2 separate regions of the Homo sapiens genome follow, and region 2 is linked to region 1. The links come from fine-mapping of genetic effects on gene expression. A gene starts in region 1. The other region holds a variant in brackets. All regions are shown on one strand. Distances are from middle to middle. Region 1 holds the start of BEND5 (BEN domain containing 5). Region 2 overlaps AGBL4 (AGBL carboxypeptidase 4).

Evidence for each region. PIP is the estimated chance that this variant, and not a neighbour inherited with it, causes the effect.
Region 2: its variant is fine-mapped to the expression of BEND5 in whole blood (TOPMed, PIP 0.94).

What each region holds. Positions count from the first base shown.
Region 1 is chr1:48,771,534-48,781,397 of GRCh38, reverse strand. It overlaps BEND5 (BEN domain containing 5), which reads left to right and starts at 4,507. Exons shown (of 6, transcript NM_024603.4): 1 at 4,507-4,792. The coding sequence starts at 4,567. All of the region lies in intron 6 of AGBL4 (AGBL carboxypeptidase 4), which reads left to right.
Region 2 is chr1:48,751,549-48,761,412 of GRCh38, reverse strand. All of the region lies in intron 6 of AGBL4 (AGBL carboxypeptidase 4), which reads left to right. BEND5 (BEN domain containing 5) reads left to right here. Exons shown (of 6, transcript NM_024603.4): 2 at 1-76; 3 at 2,129-2,513. Among named protein-coding and RNA genes, the nearest start is that of BEND5, 20 kb to the left of the region's middle. The variant G/C (reference allele first, on the strand shown) is at 5,117.

The sequences.
Region 1 (9,864 bases):
GCACATAGTAGGTTTTCCATTAAGCTGTATCCATAGACTGAATGTGTGAGTCACACAGGAAGCAGGAACTGACGTCTTTCTGGTGCCGTCCAAGGGTATCTCTTTAAGCATCCCGTGCCAGTCATGACTACTCCAGAATCGATTCTGTGGATCTATGAAACATGTGTTTTGATCTGTGTTTACTCTGTCAGCATCCGGGTCCATCGTCTGTTCTTTTCCTCTTTCTGGGTTATCGGAAAATGGAACTGCCTCCTTATAGGAATGATTTACAGTGACATGGGTAGGGAATTTGAACCCCAGGGTGCAGTGATATTTAATATGTTAATGAATGTGTCTGTCTTACAAGTGGTAGAATCAATGTTCTTCTGCCCTTCGATCACTGGGAATGGGAAAGGCAGAGTTGGGATTCAGCATCAACCCTTAAAAAGGGGAACAGACTATGCAGAAGCTCTTTAGTTTAATTAGATCCCATTTGTCAATTTTGGCTTTTGTCGCCATTGCTTTTAGTGTTTTAGTCATGAAGTCTTTGCCCATGCCTATGTCCTGAATGGTATTACCTAGGTTTTCTTCTAGAGTTTTTATGGTTTTAGGTCTTACATTTAAGTGTTCAATCCATCTTGAGTTAATTTTTGTATAAGGTGTAAGGAGGGGGTCCAGTTTTAGTTTTGTGCATATGGCTAGCTAGTTTTCCTAACACTATTTATTAAACAGGGAATCCTTTCCCCAATGCTTGTTTTTGTCAGGTTTGTCAAACATCAGATGGTTGTAGATGTGTGGCATTATTTCTGAGGCCTCTGTTCTGTTCCATTGGTCTATATACCTGTTTTGGTACCAGTACTATGCTGTTTTGGCTACTGTAGCCTTCTAGTATGGTTTGAAGTCAGGTAGCATGATGCCTCAGTTTTGTTCTTTTTGCTTAGGATTGTGTTGGCTACATGGGCTCTTTTTTGGTTCCATATGAAATTTAAAGTAGTTTTTTCTAATTCCGTGAAGAAAGTTAATGGTAGCTTGATGGGGATAGCATTGAATCTATAAATTACTTTGGGCAATATGACCATTTTCACAATATTGATTCTTCCTATCCATGAGCATGGAATGTTTTTTCATTTGTTTGTGTCCTATTCTCTCTCATAAGTGGGAGGTGAACAATGAGAACACATAGATACGGGGAGGGGAACATCACATACCGGGGCCTGTAGGGGGGTGGGGGGCTGGGGGACTAGGGGAGGGATAGCATTAGGAGAAATACCTAATGTAGTTGATGAGTTGATGAGTGCAGCAAACCATCATGGCATGTGTATACCTATGTAACAAACCTGCATGTTTTGCACATGTATACCAGAGCTTAAAGTGTAATAATAATAATAATATTAATAATAATAAAGGCCGGGCGCGGTGGCTCACATCTGTAATCCCAGCACATTGGGAGGCCGAGGAGGGTGGATTGCCTGAGGTCAGGAATTTGAGACCAGCCTGACCAACATGGTGAAAACTCGTCTCTACTAAAAATACAAAAATTAGCCAGGCGTGGTGGCGAGCACCTGTAATCCCAGCTACTTGGGAGGCTGAGGCAGGAGAATCGCTTGAACCTGGGAGGTGGAAGTGGCAGTGAGCCGAGACCAGGCCATTGCACTCCAGCCTGGGCAACAAGAGCGAAACTCCGTCTCAAGAAAAAAAAAAAAAAAAAAAAAAAGAGAGGAACAGACTTTCAAGAAAAAATGTGCAAGAGGTTTGTTATTCATGCTCTCTTTATGTCCTTCTTTAATACATTTGTTTTATAAACATTTACTCCCCAGCCCTGTGCTAGGTACCTGGGATGCTAAAGTTACTCAGCCTTTGCCTCCCCTCAAAGAGCTCTTATTCTAGTGAGGGAAGATAAAAAGTGCTGGGACAAAATATTGTAGTAGAAAGAGATAGGCTATCCTTGAAAAGTGTGGGTGGTTGGGAAAGGCTTCACAAAGGCAATGACATTTGAGCTGATTTTCAGGGTAAGTTGAGGAAGGAAGAACTTCCCAGGATGAAGGCAGAAAAAGCACAAAAGCTTGGGACCTGCTAAAACATGCTATCTTTGGAAATGTCAAATAGTTTAGGTGTCTGGAGTGTACTGTGTCTGGGAAGGTAGTAAGAGATGAGATTGGTAATGTTTTGTGGTCACCCCCATTTAGATGCAGAGAGGAGGTTGGCCATTGGCTACTTGAAATCATTTTGGGAACATAGTCCGGAGCTTCAAGGACTTTTGTTAAATACGGCCAACTCTGCATGATCCATCTTGTGAATTATCAGAAGTCTTGCTGCACATTACTTCCCCTTGACCACCATAGGAATGTATTCTTAAAATAAAAACTCACTGAGGATCAGTCCAAAGAAATCATAATCATGACAGTAAATGTGCTGGAACAACTCAGAGTGGCTCCTTTTTTTTCCACAAGCTTGTGGGGCAAGATAAGACCAACAGCTGCATCAGGACAAGTGGTGGTCATTTTTGGCTGTACCACATAACCAGTGGGTTGGTTTAAAAAAATTTGTACTGACCTACACATTTGGATATGAGAGCTATATGTTGATGGGATTCACTTATATAACGCACTGTCTATTTCACAGTGAAATAAATATCTGCCTCATTGTCAGTGCAGCTGATGTGAAATATGAGCACAGTGCTTTGATTTTATAATGTTTGATGTTTTCTGATGATAAAGTAATAAAACATTGTGGAAAATAGTTACATACACACACACACACACAATGAATACAAGGAAAAACAAAATCATCTACCACTACTAAGAAGCTAAAAAAATCACTATTAACATTTTGGTGCACTTATTCTGTTTTTTTCTTACAGCTAAAGTTTATTAAGATGAATTTTTAAAAATATAACATTTAATTGAGTCCAACACCTCCATTAAGCATTCCTCTATGACAATACTTTTCTCATTATACTGTCATTACTTGCTTATACTTCTTTAATACTCCTAGACTAGATTGTAAAGGTTGTGAGGATGGGAAAGGTATGTTATTCATACAGTTACCTAATTTTGGCACAGGAACCCAAAACTGAGATTCAAGTTCTGGTACACTGACTTTGCAAGGCCCAAGAATCCAGGTGTTTATCTTTTCATTTCTATCACCAGCACCTGGCCCAGAATCTGGCAGGTGGTGTAAACTCAGTGAATATTGGTTGCTTGAATAAAGGAATGAATGAACAGATGGATGGATGGTTGGATGGATGGATGGATGGATGGATGGATGGATGGATGGATGGATGTGGGTTTTTATTTATTCTTCTTTACCCAAAATTCATTAACTCCCTGTCAAGTGCCAGGTCTGGCTAGGCAACAGAAATATAACTAGCCATATTTGATACGAGGCATCCCTGTGAAGGTACTGACCTCCTCTGATGTGGGATAGGGTTCCTATGAGTACAGAGCCCAATCAGCCCCCTTTGGCTGGTCCTCACGGCTTGTCTTGGAGGGGACCCAAGCCCCTCCAGGCTCTCTTTGGCAAGAGACAGAGCAAAGACCGCTATTCCATGGAGTACTATTCCTGTACTCTTCAAAGTGCTCCAGAAATCCCTAGCCTTGGGCCTGTGTTACCCAGAGCGCTCCTCAACTCCCTCCGCGATTCCAAGTTGTCCCTGCTCAGTGGTGGGCGTGCTGTGGAGAGGGTATCTCAATGGAGAAAGACTATAGAGGAGAGGGGCGCCACTGCTCCCTCAGATGAGAGCAGCCCTTGACAAACCTTCCACCTCCCCAGCCAGCTGGCACAACTGGAAATCTCAGATAAGCCCCAGTTCTGGTCAGAACTGGTTTGGCAGCTCTAGGGGAAATTTTCTGTCTGACTGACCCTTTCCACAGAGGGAGCTGGCAGTTTTGCAGAACAAAACAAACAAACAAACAAACAAAAAGAAAGAAAGCAAAGAAAAGGCGGGGCCAAACTAAGGGCTGGGAAAGGCGCGGGGAGGGTGCGGGGCTGGGGGCGCGGGTAGGGTGGCTACATTTAAAACACTCCAAACTTCTGCTGGCTTCCAAGTTTACACTTTGAGATTCAATCAAGATTGCCCCCACCCCTATCCCGCATTCACTCACTCATACACTTCTCTACTTGGCAATGCAGTTTTGTTGCAATGCAATTTGGCAGCGCGATTGTTGAAGCAATATAATCCTGCACGCAGCGCACCTTTTAATCAATGCATTTTTTTCCTGCAATGCTCTTGTTATTATTTTTATTGCAACTGAATCTCTGAACCCTTTTCCCTCCCCATTCGAATCGCGCTCCGGCTGTGATTGCTCGGGTCTGACTTTGCAAGTGGCAGTGCGCTTCCAAACCCCCCTCATCCGCCCCTCGTCCCCCTTTCCCCCCCTCCCTCCCTTTTCCGCGCCCAGGCGAAAGCAGCCGATTGGCAGAACGGTGCTTTCAGGAACAATAACAGTGGGGGGAGCCTGGGTCCTGGGGAGCCGCCCCCGCCCCCCCCAGCACCGTAGCGAGACTCGCGCCCCCCGCCGGATCCCCACCTCCGCGCCCGCCCCGCGGGCTGAGCTGCCCGACCGGGGCCCGCCCCCGGCGCCCACCATGTACGCCTTTGTGCGGTTCCTGGAGGACAACGTCTGCTACGCGCTGCCCGTGTCGTGCGTGCGCGACTTCAGCCCCCGCTCGCGGCTGGATTTTGACAACCAGAAGGTGTACGCCGTGTACCGGGGCCCGGAGGAATTGGGCGCCGGGCCCGAGAGCCCCCCGCGCGCCCCCCGCGACTGGGGCGCGCTGTTGCTCCACAAGGCCCAGATCCTGGCGCTGGCAGGTGAGCAAGCGGGCGGGGAGGGACGGTGGGACCCGGGCGGGGGCTGGGACCCCGGGAGGGGCCGGGGGCCCGGGCGGAGGGGACCGGGGGGAGCCACTGCTTGCTCCTTCCTGCCTCCTTCTCCCGTCCTCTGGGCATTTCATTTGGGAACGGGGTGTCTCTAAGAGGCCAGGCCAGTTAAAAAGACCGGATGGTCCCCTTTGTCTTCCCCGCTTCCCCGAAGCTCCCGCGCTGTCAGTCCGTCTTCATCTCTTCATCTGTGTCTGTCCTCCTCTTTCTGATTCTTTGTGTTTTCTTCGTTCCTTCACTTTCCATTTTTCTCCCTACCTGTTTGTACCGTCATTTCTCTCTCACCTTCTCTTTACCTCTCTCCCAGTTCCTTCCCTCTGTTCTTTTCTGTCAAGAATTAAGTTTCTCAAGCTGTCTGTCTCTCTCCCTTTAAAGGCTGTTGGTACCTCCTTGGAGTGAGGAGCAAGAAGGATATTGTCAGATCTTCTAGGTGGGAGTCCCTCCTCACAGAGGGAAGCTATGACATCCTTGTCCCATCCGGGCCAACATTGGACAGGATGAGGAGGCCATGAACCTCAGTGCACTGGGCTCCACACCACACTCTCCTGCCCCTCCCTGGCCAGGTGGCAGAGGTAAGGAGGTAGAGGCCCTAAGGCATCCCTCAGCCTCCACACCCCTTTCTGAATCTCCCAGAAGGCTCCCTGAATGAGAGAGTTGAGGGCCAGGAGAGAGTTTCTGGGTCAGAATAACACTGGACCTCTCATCCCTGCCCTGCCAGGGCCCTGAGAGATGGGCTAAGGCAGCTAGTCTCATCTCCATTTCGTAGATGAGGGTACTGAGGTTCAGTTGGTGATAGGGAAAGAAACCAGCCCTTTATCCTCCTATGCTCCAGTTCTTCCTGCCATGCTGAGACACCTTTTCCTTTGTAAAGAGAAGACAGCTGGCCCTCTTTCCCAGCTAGTTCCAGAAAGTTTGAGTCTAGACAAGCAAGGAAGGGGGAAGTATCATCTCCGTTTTGGGGAGCAGCCTTTTTAGCTCCTGCTGGTAAGGAGAATGAACCTTAAAGTGGGCAAATAGTGTTCCTGCCTTCTACCAGAAAGAACACGAAGGGTTAGTGACTGAATGAAGATGTTTTGTAATTTTGAGACCTTCTCTATTTTTTTCAAGTTCCTTTGCTTCCTCACATTTAGCCTAAAAGATGAACCCAACATTCTCTCAACCCATAGAGACTTGCCCAGGGTCTCATGGCAAGTTAGCTCAGTCTCACAACTCATGTTGCCTCTGAAAAATCGGTTTGCAGAAGTTGAAGAGTGGAAGAACTGGAAACTGACCAGCAGCACTTGGACCCTTTTTGACAGGCTCTATCCATACCACCTCCCTGATAAGCCCTGGCACACCGAAGTGTAGGCCCACCCACTGCCAGACACCTAGGGCCAAAGAAACTGAGGGAGGGGAAGCAGATTTTAGAAAAGGGAACCATTCATAGCTGATTAGGTTTTATTTTGTTTGCTTACTTGCCTTTAATTACCTGAGGGAAAGGATTAGGAATTTATTTCCCAAGACGATAGGCTTGAGGAAGTTATAACTAGGTTGTAACCTTAGCTTCCCTTTTGCTAGAAGAAAATGCATGCATGCTTCTTGACGATTGTATTGTACTCCTAGATCTGGAAGGGTCCTAGGAGAGTAGAAGTGATGTGTTAAAGAGAGTCAGTGATAAGTTTCTTAGTGTGTAATGGCTGTTTTCCTCTCTTGGAGATTGTTTCATTCATCTACTCATTCATTCAGCAAACATACATATACACTGTGCTTGACTCTTCAGGCACTGCAGAGAGGCCACTTAGGCAGATGGCAGCTCCCACCAGCTCTGATTTTGAAATCGACACAAGTCCTCAGAAGCAAGATACATGTAGCTGTTGGTTTGAGAACCATGAATTTTGAACCTGTAGACTGTTCATCCTCCAAGTTAGAATGTTGATAAATCTGTATGGTTATTTAAAAAACCCAAGCATCATTTGGAAACTGGCAGAGTAGGTTCAAAGAAGTGTGCCAGTTTGAATTAGTTGAAAAACACTTCCCCTTACCTCTCTTCAGTTTTTTTCTTGGGAGGAGAAAGGGGAAAAAAAGACAACAACTTGAAGTTGGCCAAACCACATTTTGAATTTTGATCTCCTGGGTACCCACTGCCCTGCATAGAGACCTGATCGAAGGGCCAGGGTGAGTTCGGGAATTCATTACCCTGGAATAACTCCTATGTATCTTCAAACCCCTTCCTGACTTAAACTTGGTGGCTCTGAGAATTGCTTACAGTGACTTCAGAGAGCTCATCTGGCATCTCCTATATGTAAATACCACTGTGCTATGGCACCAGGTGTGAGGAGGAATCCCCTCAAGTGGGAAGCAGAGGTGGCTTTATGTTTGTGGATTAGCTATTAATTGATTAATTAATCTCTCTGACACAAATAGAATGGTTTCCAAGGTAGTTTCAGCACAGCTTTCTGGCTTTTGGTGAGAAGTATGTTGCTATACTGAGTGTTGGCCCAAGCCAGCCCAGAGCTGTCTTGAAGTATACTTCTTTTTATACTCAGGAAATGTCAAAGCCGACTGCTGTGGGACTTTACATTTTACTGCCCATAGTAGGTGGTTTATACCACTACTTATCAAATTACAATCCCAGTTCAAGGAAAAACAAAACTCCTTCTTTCCTGATAGTCTTGCTATATGCCTACACATTATCTCTGTTAGTCCTCTAAGTGACATTTTGGTAGGTATTGCTGTGGTTAGTATTTCCATTTCATAGATGAGGACACCGAAGCTCAGAGACTTGCCTACAGCCACACAGCTAATAAATGGCAAGGCTGGAATTGGAACACAGGTCTTCCAGTGCCAGGCCCCCACTTGGCAGTCTCCTTTGTAAAGTAGCCGATGTTCCCATCAGCTACACAGCATGATTTGGAAGGAGTGAAAGGAAATGGAAAAACTGTCCATGAAGCTTACAGCTCAAGGCAAGTTTTCAAGCCAGAGTATAATTTTAGTTTCTGAGTTTTCAAGCCCATTCTGCTCTTTCTCCATTACCATCCTCCCTCTTACAGAGCACACACAGCTGTCCCCCACCCGCCTATCTCTTCAGTTGGCATTTGCTTGAATAAATCTTCACTAAGGCTGTCCCTCTTGGAGGGTCCACATAACTCAAAGTTTGACTCACCTTTGACCTCTGTTCTCTCTTTACTCTCATTTATTTGCCAAGCAGGTTGTGAAAGTGAGAACTACTCATTTGGAGAGCTCACCATCATCTAACTGCAATCCAGCCTGCTACTGGGGCTCATAGTGTTGAATTTTATTTTTTTTTTAGGAGGCTCAAACTGGTTTCTCTGTGCCTAGAGCCCTAAAATTTTAAGTTGTTCTATCTAGGCACCTGTGCTCTGTTACTGTTGTTTGAGTGTGCTGAATTTTTTTGTTTCAGATGTCTCCTTACTGCTTTCTGTATGCCAGGCCCAGTGCTGTATTAAGTGAATATACCAGTGCACCTATGCATCTCAGGTACTGTGATTGAAATGACAGCACGACCCAGGGGTGGCAGGCGTTGACTTTTCATGTCCTGCTATGTAGGATTTCTGTGGGGGAGGGAGTGATGGAAAAGAAATGGGTATCATCCTCAGGGAGTGTGTAATTTGGGGGCCTCAAAGTAAGTGCTAAATAAAGGTAGAAGCCAGGCACTGGGGAAACACAGAGAATGGACCAATTCAAGGTGGGCTTTGCAGTTTATCTTTTAAGTTTTTCTTTTCCAGCTCCACCATCACTGCCTGCATTCAGGTCAGCATCAGCTCTTATCTAAACTATTGAAGCAGTCTTCTAATTGATTACCATGTCTCTGATCTATTTTCCCAATTGCTTTTAGAATAATCTTCTAAAACACAGTCTTAGTTGACTGCTCTCATTAGAACCTTCTGTAGCTCCCTATTGCCTACTGAAAAAAGTTTTAGTTTCTTAGCCTGGCATTCATAGCCCTCCTTAGACCAGCTCTATCCCAGCCCCACCTTACTTCTCCAGCCTCACTCTCTCTTCCCCTTTCCCTGAGACCTATGGTATTTTTTACTCTTCTGTGAACACACTCTCTCGCACTCCTTTGAGCCAGCCAAGGTGGATTAATCATTGTCTGATATGGGGCCTCTGCCTGCAAGGAGCTCACCTACAGGTGGGGAAGGTAGACATGTGACAGAAGTTTGTGGTCCAGCCCCCCTCCACCTGTGATAAAGGAGTGGACAAAGTACATTTGGAGACCTTGCTTCAGTGGTAGTCCCTATTCCTCCCTCTGCGCCCAAGAGAGACTCTCTCCCTCCTCAGAACTCTCTTTTCACTTTGGTTTTGCCTTGCTTATGGATTGTAGCATTTTATGTCTTGTTTTTATTAGTCATGAATGTGCCTCTCTTCCTGCCTGACAGGGAACTCCTCTAGGACAGGGGCCTGGCTTCCTTGTGCCTGCATCCTCAGTGCCCAGCATATAGTCTGCACTGGTGTGCCCATGTTGAACTCATCAACTTTGGGAAGACAGGTGCATTTTTGTGCTTGAGGAGAGGGAAATAGGGGAGATAGGAACCTCTGCAGCAGCAGCTTGTTTTTCAGAACAGAAACCTGCCGTAGGATTTTAAGTTTTCATTCAACTTTGTTCATCTGGAAGAAGTCAACATTCTTTATCACTCCCTCAACTAGCTAGAAGAAACCCCACACTTGGGGGAAATAGCTTCCAAAGCCATGTTCTTATTGCTTTGGTAATTTTAGCTCATTCAGGGCTCAGGTCCCAGCTTGGCATTGTTAGTCCAAATAGATCATTTGCTCCAGAAATGCTTTGGAACTTCTACAAAGTTAGCAGTGAAGCAGAGGACTAGCCGATTTCATATGCAAAGATTGTTGCGTGTCATCAGTGGGAAACTGCCAACAAAAGGATTTATTTTCTTGAAAAAAGTGAGTGAAAACTTTTAATTTAGGTTTTGACATGTTTTGCTGATATACATTGGAGCAAAGATTGGAAATTGCCTGCTGTCATCTGTTGCGGATTCTACTGGGAT
Region 2 (9,864 bases), 20 kb after region 1:
TTCTCTTAATCATGTAGAAGAAGATGGAGAGGTTAAAGATTATGGGGAAGAAGATTTACAGCTTAGACACATCAAGGTAACAAAATCTTTCCTTTCTTTGGAGGTATGCTGGAGCATTTTCAGATATCTCGTAGCTAAAGAGTTTCAGTCTGGCTTCCTCTCCCCATGTAAATGTCCCCTGGTATCACAGGCTATGATTTTTTCAGGGTAGTGAAAGCGTGGGACAACTCGTGTGTATTTGCCTTGCTGGCCAACTTTCTAGAGAGCCCTGATTCATGCTGTGCCACCAAGCTTGGTCCTGTTTGCACAGTCTGTGCAGTGTCATCGCTGTTGGAGGTTTGGAACGGTGTGTTTCTCCTTGGCCCACAGCTCTGGAGAGGTCACTGCTAAGCTCCAAGAACGTTAAACAGATGTTCTTGGGGAGAAGTTTAGGGCCAGTCACTGTCAGAGTGCCCCAGATAGCTAAGGCTGGACTCATTGGGAAGTGCACGAGGTTCACAGAAGGGATTTGTGAGACCTCGGGTTAGATGAAAACATTTGCATGAGGTTGCATTTTCTTGCTGTGTGCCCCAGTTGGTCTCCAGCCTTCACTTTGGAAACTGCTGAAAATCTTGTTCGGCAAGCTAGCTGTTTTTTTCTGTGCAGTAGATACCTGAGAGGAAGGGAGAAGGACGATAAGGAAGTGGGATGTCTTCTGCATTGACCATGGTCTGATTTTGGTCACAAGGTTGAGGGTGTTCCCAAGGAATGTAGCTGAGTTCAGTTCATGGCATTCATTGTACTCCTGCTATGCGCCTGGCCCTGTGCTCGTACCTGGAACCATTAGCCAGACATGGTCCTTGCCTCCAGGGGTCTCACATTATAGTGACGCAGACATATTGTAACGATCACTTTAGATAAATGATAAATTCATCTACACTAGTAGCACCTTATCTCAGCAGATAAAACGACTTACGATTTTGTCATGTAACACAATATCAGAGTCATGGTTTCATTGGGCTGGGTTTGATTTGGTTTGGTTTTCCTTAAATTTCCTGAAACTTAGAACTGCCTGGAATCTCATGTCCTCAGTTGTCTGCACTTCCTACACATGCCCCAGTCAGGAGAGCTCCTAACCCTCCTGCCCTGAGTGAAGAATTCATTTGATCTTGTAACTCTCACTGCCCCTCAGTAGAAGCTGTAGCTACTTGAGCTAGAATTTCCTTAGGCAGTGGAACCCCAAGCTCTGGAGGGGGTCCTGGATAATTCTCTTGTAAATGAACTTTCTTCTCTCTATCCACTGTCTTGCTGAGGAGAGTCTGGAAGGAGCCTTGTACTGGAAGTTAGATTCCAAATTCTGGTTTTGGCTCTGTTTGTATCTCACTATGTGACCCTAAGTGTAGTCCTTCCCTGAACTCTCTGACCCTCAGTTTTCTCACCTGTAACATGAGGCAGTTAAACTGAAAGTACCTTTCAATGCTAGAATTCTTTGAACTTTTCAGTTGAGTAAACATTTTTCAAGCCCCTACTGAGTGCCAGTTCTGAGTGAGTAGGCAGAGGAGAAACAGAGAAAATAAGACATGTTTTCTGCTCTAGATTAGAGTAGATTAGAGTTTTTAACATCCTTTCCATCTAAAGCATTGTCGATGAAAAGTTTACATGGTGAATTGCCTTTAGGGGAGGAATTTTATGTTTTTGTTGTTGAAGACATTTGTGAGTCCTCTGGGATCACTTGGCCTGGCCTCATTTCTCCCTGATTCTCCACAAATACATATTGAACACCCCCATGAGCAAGCCACTGCCTAGGCATTGTGGGTGGGCTGGGGCCTGGGGAGTTGGGAAGGGTGGTCATGGTATATGCATCCAGGAGGCAGAGTGGTGAAAAGGAAAAAGTGCAGGCCTGGGAAACCAGTGTCCTGGTTATGACTTTGGGCAAGCCCCTTCCCCACTCGGAACCCCATTTATAAAATTTATAAAATGTTTCCCCATTTATAAAATGAAGGGCTTTGACTAAGTGTTTGCACAGGTTTCTCCAAGCACTGATGTTCTGTGATTCTGTGATTTTAGGATTGTCTGGGGAAATATTGATCTGCAGTCCAAGAAAATCCCAGCTGCCCTTGCCTGAACTGATTCTCGTTGTCCTACACAGAGACCTGAGGGGCGGAAGCCGAGCGAAGTGGCGCACAAGAGCATCGAGGCAGTGGTGGCTCGGCTAGAGAAGCAGAACGGCCTGAGCCTGGGCCATAGCACGTGTCCGGAAGAGGTCTTCGTGGAGGCCTCGCCAGGCACAGAGGACATGGACAGTCTAGAAGATGCTGTGGTGCCCCGGGCTCTGTATGAGGAGCTGCTGCGCAACTACCAGCAGCAACAGGAAGAGATGCGCCACCTCCAGCAGGAGCTGGAGCGGACTCGGAGGCAGCTGGTACAACAGGCCAAGAAGCTCAAGGAGTACGGGGCACTTGTGTCTGAAATGAAGGAGCTCCGTGACCTTAACCGGAGGCTCCAGGACGTGCTGCTCCTGCGGCTTGGCAGCGGTGAGTGCCCCAGCAGGTCACCTACCACTCCACTTGGGTGAAATACTTCATGCAGATCCTCTTCCAGGAAGGGAAAGGGGAGAGGGAGACCAAGTGCCCTGAGGCTAGGGAAGGACAGACTCTTGGCTTACCAGTTACCTCAAGGAAGAGTCACTCCCCACTCATAGTGAATCTGGTAGGAGCTTATGTATGCAGCAGCCTCAGCTATGGGAACATTGGCGAACATGGGTCAGAGACTAAGAGCTGACAAAATATTTGTCACTGCTCAGTCCCTTATGCATTCATTCAGCAGGAGGCAGTAACAGGGATCGTAGGGAACCTCTCCAAGGAGGTTTCAGGATAGTAAAAAGAAGTAGACATGATCCTAACAACATGTATTAGTTTAAGTCAGAAAGTGATAAATGCCAAAGGAGAATGCTGACAAAATGATATGAGAATTCAGGGGTTGGAGAGGTTATTTGTAACTGAGGGCATGGAGAGACTTCAGTAAGAAACTGAGCTTTGAAGGTTGGGCAGTGTTTCAAGGCACAAGAGGAGGCTGAGCAGCACTGGTGAGCATGGGCAAATACCTGGAGCACACTAAGAGGAATAATGCAAATGTGCTTTGAGGACAGAAGATGGAAGGACTTGAAAACTTTACCAGCCTGGGATGTCTGGACTTGTTTTGGTAGGAATGGAAAGCATTAGAAAGCTTTGAGCAGGGAGGCACATGACCTTAGGAAGATGAATATAAAGACGTATAAAACTCCTTTGGTTTGCTCATAGAACTTAATAGGTTCTTATATTGCACCCTATTTTAACTAATCAGGTTTTCTGATCTAAAGTGGTTTAGAAGCAGGGATCGAGAAACCTGAAAGGCAGCAGCTTTGACTGCCGGAAGAAATGACTGCTTACCAGAGAGAAAAAGACAGAAAAATGCTTTTAGAATATAAGAATCCAGAACTGTAAAAGATAGAGCCCAGTCAATATTGAGGAAATCGGTATAACACAAGTTCTTTGCCTCCATAGCCCCTGAAGACAGTAATTAATAACTCTGAGTCAGTGTGCTTTGCTTGAAGAAGGTGGTAATCTAGTCTAGAAATATCCCCAAAGTTTAAATAAAATACAATTTTGCCCTTGTGAAGGTTTTCATTATCTAGATAATATATTTAGATATGAAGCTTCATTCTTCTTTGATTTATTCTTACCCTAATTTACTTATATTTGTAGGTGTCATTTGCTTCTTAAAGTATATCCCCAAGGTAGTGGCTCAGTAGATCTTTGGGTGGTCCAAGAAGTCAGCAGAGAGGCCTTTCATGCCCTTGTCATAGAAAAGGAAATGACATTGGGACTTCCCCAGAGTTACTTAGGGAGGCAGAGGTAGAGTTCTGTCTCAACTCTAGTCACTCAATTCATAGGCTGGACTTTGTCCACTCCCCAACTCTACCATTGCCTTGGCCATTGTCCCAAATCATAGTCTACAGAGGTTCACAGTGACACGAAAAGTCGCATATGGTTTGCAACTTCAAAAGTTAGTAAAGTTCTTTATTAAAATAAAATCTCAAAGAGAAATCATAAATGTAAAAATTTGTAAAAGCTGTATTGTTCTTGTAGTGGTGATGGGGGATGGGGATAACTGAAATTTTCAGAGAGAAAAAATGTTTCCCAATCTTAAAGTGAATAATTTGCATTTTCAGTGTGCTTTGTATGCTATGCCTTTTATGAACTTCTTGGGGGCTTGTGGGGAAGTACACCAAAAACAGAAATTCTTGGTACTTAATTCAACTCCCAGGGAAACTACCTGTTTTTCATGATTATGAACTGAGTTTAAACTCTAGAAACCACTCCTAAGCCTCTGGGGTGGTAAGACACCCTGCATTTTACATCATTATATGCCTCTTTTAGTCCTAAAACATGTAGAAAAACTTGACCTGAAGCATAGTTTCAGTGTCTTGATCTTTCTAGGCTCTCCCATCCCACAGGCCTTGAAGGCCATTGCACAGGCCAGTGGCTAGCTCTTCCCTGATCTGAGTCACCATCATCATTACAATGGGTTGGACTCAACATAAATCAACTGGAGCCCCAAGTATGCATAGACCACCCACCCTATCCTCTCAGGGCTACAGGCATCCTGGAAAATCACACCCACTGTCTCTCATCAGTGAAAGCTTAAAAGTCTATTGATTAACACATGTTAATAGGAGGATGCTAATGTGCCAACTTCCAAGACAAATCCGCAAGAATAAAATAAAAGGATCTCTACCCTTAAGAGGAGGTTGTATGTTTTCACGGCTTGGATTCAAATCCCAACTTCCCTACTTCCCAACTCTGTGGCTTTGGGAAGCTCATGTCCTTCTTTCCTTTCTTCCTTCCTTTCCTATGACCTTATTTTCTTCCATGAATACTTGCTGGTCTCCTGCTACATGCCAGGGACCTAGCCTAGTGTAAGAATTCAGTATATTTGCAATACAGCCCTTGCCCTCTGCCCTTGAGGAGTTTAAAGTTTGATGAGGGGAACAGATCCTGAAACAATCAATGACAGCACAGTACATAAATGCCATCATAGGGACAAAACCATAGAGGACTGTGGGACAGCAGAGGGGATTACCCACCAGATTTTGAGG[G/C]GTCAGAGAAGGAAGGCTTCCTGAAGGAAACAACTTTTAGGCTGAAGCCTGAATGATGAATTTTTGTTACCCAAACAGGAATCAGTAGATGGGGAGAGTAAGGAGCAATTTAGGCAAAGAGCATGTATGTCTCTGACCCTCAGTGTTCTCATATGTAAAATGGGAATGATAATATTACAGCCTTGTGACACACCGCATAGTGCCTGACATTCTGTTAATGCTTGATTACTGTTAGCTCCTGTTCAACATCATGTAATGGAGGAGCTAAGACAGGGTTAACTTTGGCTTTTAACTCGGGCACCCCCAGCCAGTAGTTGGCTATATGACCTTGGGCAGGTTAACTAACTTCTCTGCCTCAGTATCCTCTTACAATATTGAAGATAAGAGGGGTTATATATGTTTGTTCATTTGTTTATTCAATCAGTCAGCTAACATTGACCAAATGCTTTCTGAGCCTAGGAACTTAGGGAGATACAAAGAAGATTAAGACATTGGGAAGTAGGGAGAGGGTAGTGATGGAGGTAAACATGTTATTAAAACGCAGAGTGCCAGTTCTGGGAGAGAGATTAGCGTCTGAAGGGAGAAGTCTCTCTTGGAAAGTCTGGTAAGATATCCCCTTGCTGTAACAGATCCTGATCTATAAACACCACTAAGAAGGCAGAGAACAACCAGAAAGCGAATGAGAGACCCTTGTTTGACTCTCGGCTTCAGTTGCCCTCTGAGAAACATGTCCTGGGTTAGGGTTGATGTAGGGCCCAGGCTTTGCCGTTCTCTGCCCCCTGGGCCTCATTTGAGTGTTGCTCCTGGAGGCATATCCTTGAGTATTTTCATTTTTTGTCCACCTCAGCTAGGGGCCTAGCTCAAAGGCCTTTGTCTAGCTTGGGTGCTGGATCATTCACACAAATTCAGAGACGAGGGAGGCCAACAGGTCAGGAGGTGCTCAGTTTTCAAAAGAAATCTACCTGTCTGGAAGAATCATTATTTACTCACCGAGGTAGTGGGGTCCTACGAATGGTAGATGGTAGTGGAGAGCAGCCGCCTGGTCTTTTCAGACTGATGGGGACTCAGAGTGGGAAGCAGGTCCGTCAGCAGCCAGGAGTTGTAATGGCGCACCTTGGAAAGGTTGGGGTCAGAAAGGTGGAGCCACACCCAAGGGTGGGGGATAGCAGCAAGAGAGTATGTTTCAGAGGCTTCACTGAATCGTACACGTCTTCATTTGTACATTTATTCATTCTTTCATTCATTCCACACACAAGAAAAGATGGATTTAACAGGAAGTATTCCAACATGGAGGCATGGAGTTGTGAAAGAACTTAGGCTATAGACTGTCACCGTCATTTTGCTGATGAGGAAACAAGCCCAAAAAGTGTCACTGGCTTATTCCTAAGGGTCTTCTGACCCCTGGTCCTGCGTGCCTCTCTCTAGACCCTCACCCGTATGGCCTTCTTTAGCTCTTAGACTTCATTTTTCCCAACATGGGGGTGTCTCCTCCATCCCCTTTACTCCCCACAAAGGATATCATCTCTCTCTGTAAAACAGAACTTTCCTTGTCTGTGATCTTAGCATGGTAAACAACCCTTTCTGATGGGAAGGAACCTCACTTTCCTCCACTGTCAAAATTAAATAAGGAAGCATATGTAATTTGCATATGTAAACTTTTGCCCCGTGACCCCCATATTGTAAGTGTTCAATAAATGCCAGTCCCCTTTTCCTTTTTCTCCCTTTCCTGCCCCTCCTCCCCCAAATAAGTAAATGCCGAGGATGCAAAAAGCATGGTGACATTCCAATGTACAAGGTACAGATGTTTTTCTATGTATATTCCTTCATTCATTATTTATTTTATTCAGTGAACAGTTATCGAGGGTATCCTTTGTTCCAGGACTGGGTTAGGTGCTGGGAATAACGTAATGAACAAGACAGAGTGCCTTTTTAAAAAACAATGCACAAGTAGATTAGAATGGTGTGTTTAAACCGGGTGTTGGCAGCCACAGAGAATTTTAGGGGATGAAGGGAAGCAGAACAATAGAGACCCAGTTGGGGGAGGGTAAGCCCCCATGTGTGAGAATGGAGTAAATTCTAGGGTCTCTCTTGGTTTCTCCTCAGCTAGATTCCCTGTTCTTAGAAGGCAAAGTCCAAGGCTACGGTGTCCTCCCCAGTTTGTTACACTGTAAGTACCACTTAGACAGTATAATTCATTGTGGTGTGACTCGGGTAACATTAGTTCAAATAAGACTCTCAAGGGCTCTGTGAGGAATACAAAGAGGAGCAGACATAATCCTTGCCTTCAGGATGCACACAAGTCTCACAGGGAACACAAATATGTACGCAGTGTGACACCAGGCAAATAAAATCAGTGCTCTAATTGCAGGAGGGAGGCAGATGATGGTTTTAGATTTTGTGTGTGCTTTGTCAGGGAATATAGGCAAAAATGATGAATTCTAACCAGAAGAGGCATAGATAACTAGAGTAATAACAGTAATTCACATGTGCATGGCATTTTACAGGTTTTAAAGCACCTTGACATTTTTATCTCATTGGACAATTCCGATAGTCTTATTGCAAGCCAGGTAGGGATTATTATCTCCGTTTTAGAGAGGAGAATGCAAAAAGAAGAGAAAATGTCCTGTTGGCTAGATCATAAGCTGGCTGAAAGTTTTGAAAAAGGAGAAAGCCATTGTGGCCTGCATATCTGTTTCAACTTTTTAGAGCTGGATCACTAATACCTCTGTAACCCTCTGGGTTTGTGCCTTGTGTGCTGTCCAAGGTCCGCTAAAATACCAGCTTTGATCTTTAAAATCCTTTGCAGTCTGAACTGGTTTCTTTAAGCCCAGGTCTCTGATGGTGCCTTAGAAAAGGCAGCTGATGTCAGCCAAATGCTTCTTGCTGGTTTTCTCCTGTACTGGAGACAACCTGGGCTTCAGCAACAGATACTACTTGGGTTTGAATCTCAGCTGTCTTAATTTATTACCTGTGTAACTTCATACACATTTGTTTAACCCTTCTCAGGTGTCTGTTTTCTCCTCTAGGTATCTTAAAGCCCACTACATACAGACAGGAGAACCAGCTCAGTGATTAAGAGCCCTAATGGGCTCTGAGGTCAGAAATACTGAGGTTTTCAACCCCAGCTCTTCCAAATTCAAATTTTGTTGCCTCGGGCAAGTTACTTAACTTCCTCAGCCTTAGTTTCCTCATCTGTACAAGAGAGTGAATGATAGTATCAGCTATTATGGTTCTTAAAAGGAGCAAATGGGCCGGGGGCAGTGGCTCACGCCTGTAATCCCAGCACTTTGGGAGGCCGAGGCAGGCGGATCACGAGGTCAAGAGATCGAGACCATCCTGGCCAACATGGTGAAACCCCGCCTCTACTAAAAATACAAAAATTAGCTGGGCATGGGGGCGCGTGCCTGTAGTCCCAGCTACTCAGGAGGCTGAGGCAGGAGAATAGCTTGAACCCGGGAAGCAGAGGTTGCAGTGAGCCAAGATCATGCCACTGCACTCCAGCCTGGCGACAGAGCGAGACTCTGTCCAAAAAAAAAAGGAGTAAATGAATAAATGCAGTAAAGTCATCTGCCTGGAGGCTGGCATATAGTAGGTGCTCAGTAGGTACTGCATCAAGATATAGAATCATTTGAAGATGTGCATGAGAAAATGTGTATATAGCACTTGGCACATCATAGGCACCCATTGTCCTACAGCAGAACACAGATGTGACGGTCTGGGATGTCTTAATCTTTGGTCAACCCTGGATGACACCTAGAGATTTCCTGTTTCCCCTTGTAAGTCCTTAGAAATCATATTTGAACACTCTGTTTTACAACCATGCCTGGACTTGATTTCAAACTCACTGGTCTGTAGCTTATAGAATTTGTCCATTACCACGCCCAACTTTTCCTGGGCAGAATTCCATCTTCCCATCTCTAGCTCTCAACCACCCCATTTGACCTCCTAGATTTTTTTAGACATCACTAGTTGTGGCTCAGTCTTCTCTTTGCCAGGACTCTCTTCTTGGGGCCTGTTTATCTCAGAGCTCTTTCCTGTCTCTTTCAGCCTCAGTTCATTTTCACAATGAGCAGGAGTACTATAAAAAAGTTGGGCTTTGAGAAAGGCCCAAAGCGGGTGGACAAGAGCCATTTTGTCTAGTTAGATGTTTACATCTCCCTTGTGGAGGTAAGGCCTAAGAGGCCCACAGTCTGCCTGCCGGTTTAGAGTTAGTGGTGGGGCAGTTTCAAAAACTGTTGTATCCTGCTTAATTCAGATGGCAGGAAGAGACCTAGTAATAAGAAGTGGAGTAGTTTGTCTGAAAAATATCAGTCATCTTCTACTTTGAAGGACTTTTTTTGAACTGTTGCCCAAATCAGAAGTAGCCACAGTTTAAAATAATCCCAGATTATTTTAAAAGTTGATTTCAGGGTGGCCGAACAATTCAGGACCCTCCTTCCCCTTTCTCCCTAGACTCCGTTTTCCTGGGGGCAGTGGGGATGGGGTTGAGGGACAACTCCAGGCTGTCCCTTTTCTAACAACTGCCTAGGTATTTAGAACATCCAGAGGAAGTTGTTAGGCTTTTCCCCATTGTCAGAATAGCAGTGTGTTTCTCCATTAGAGCAGGGTTTTGCCTTCCATATTGCCATGTGACAAGCTTATGTTTTTTTTGGATTTGCCAGGCAGGAAATGGAGGTGGGAAAGTGTTCATTACAGGCAAAGCCTGGTTTCTAGGAATACCTGCTTTGGGCCAGACACTAAATACTTTC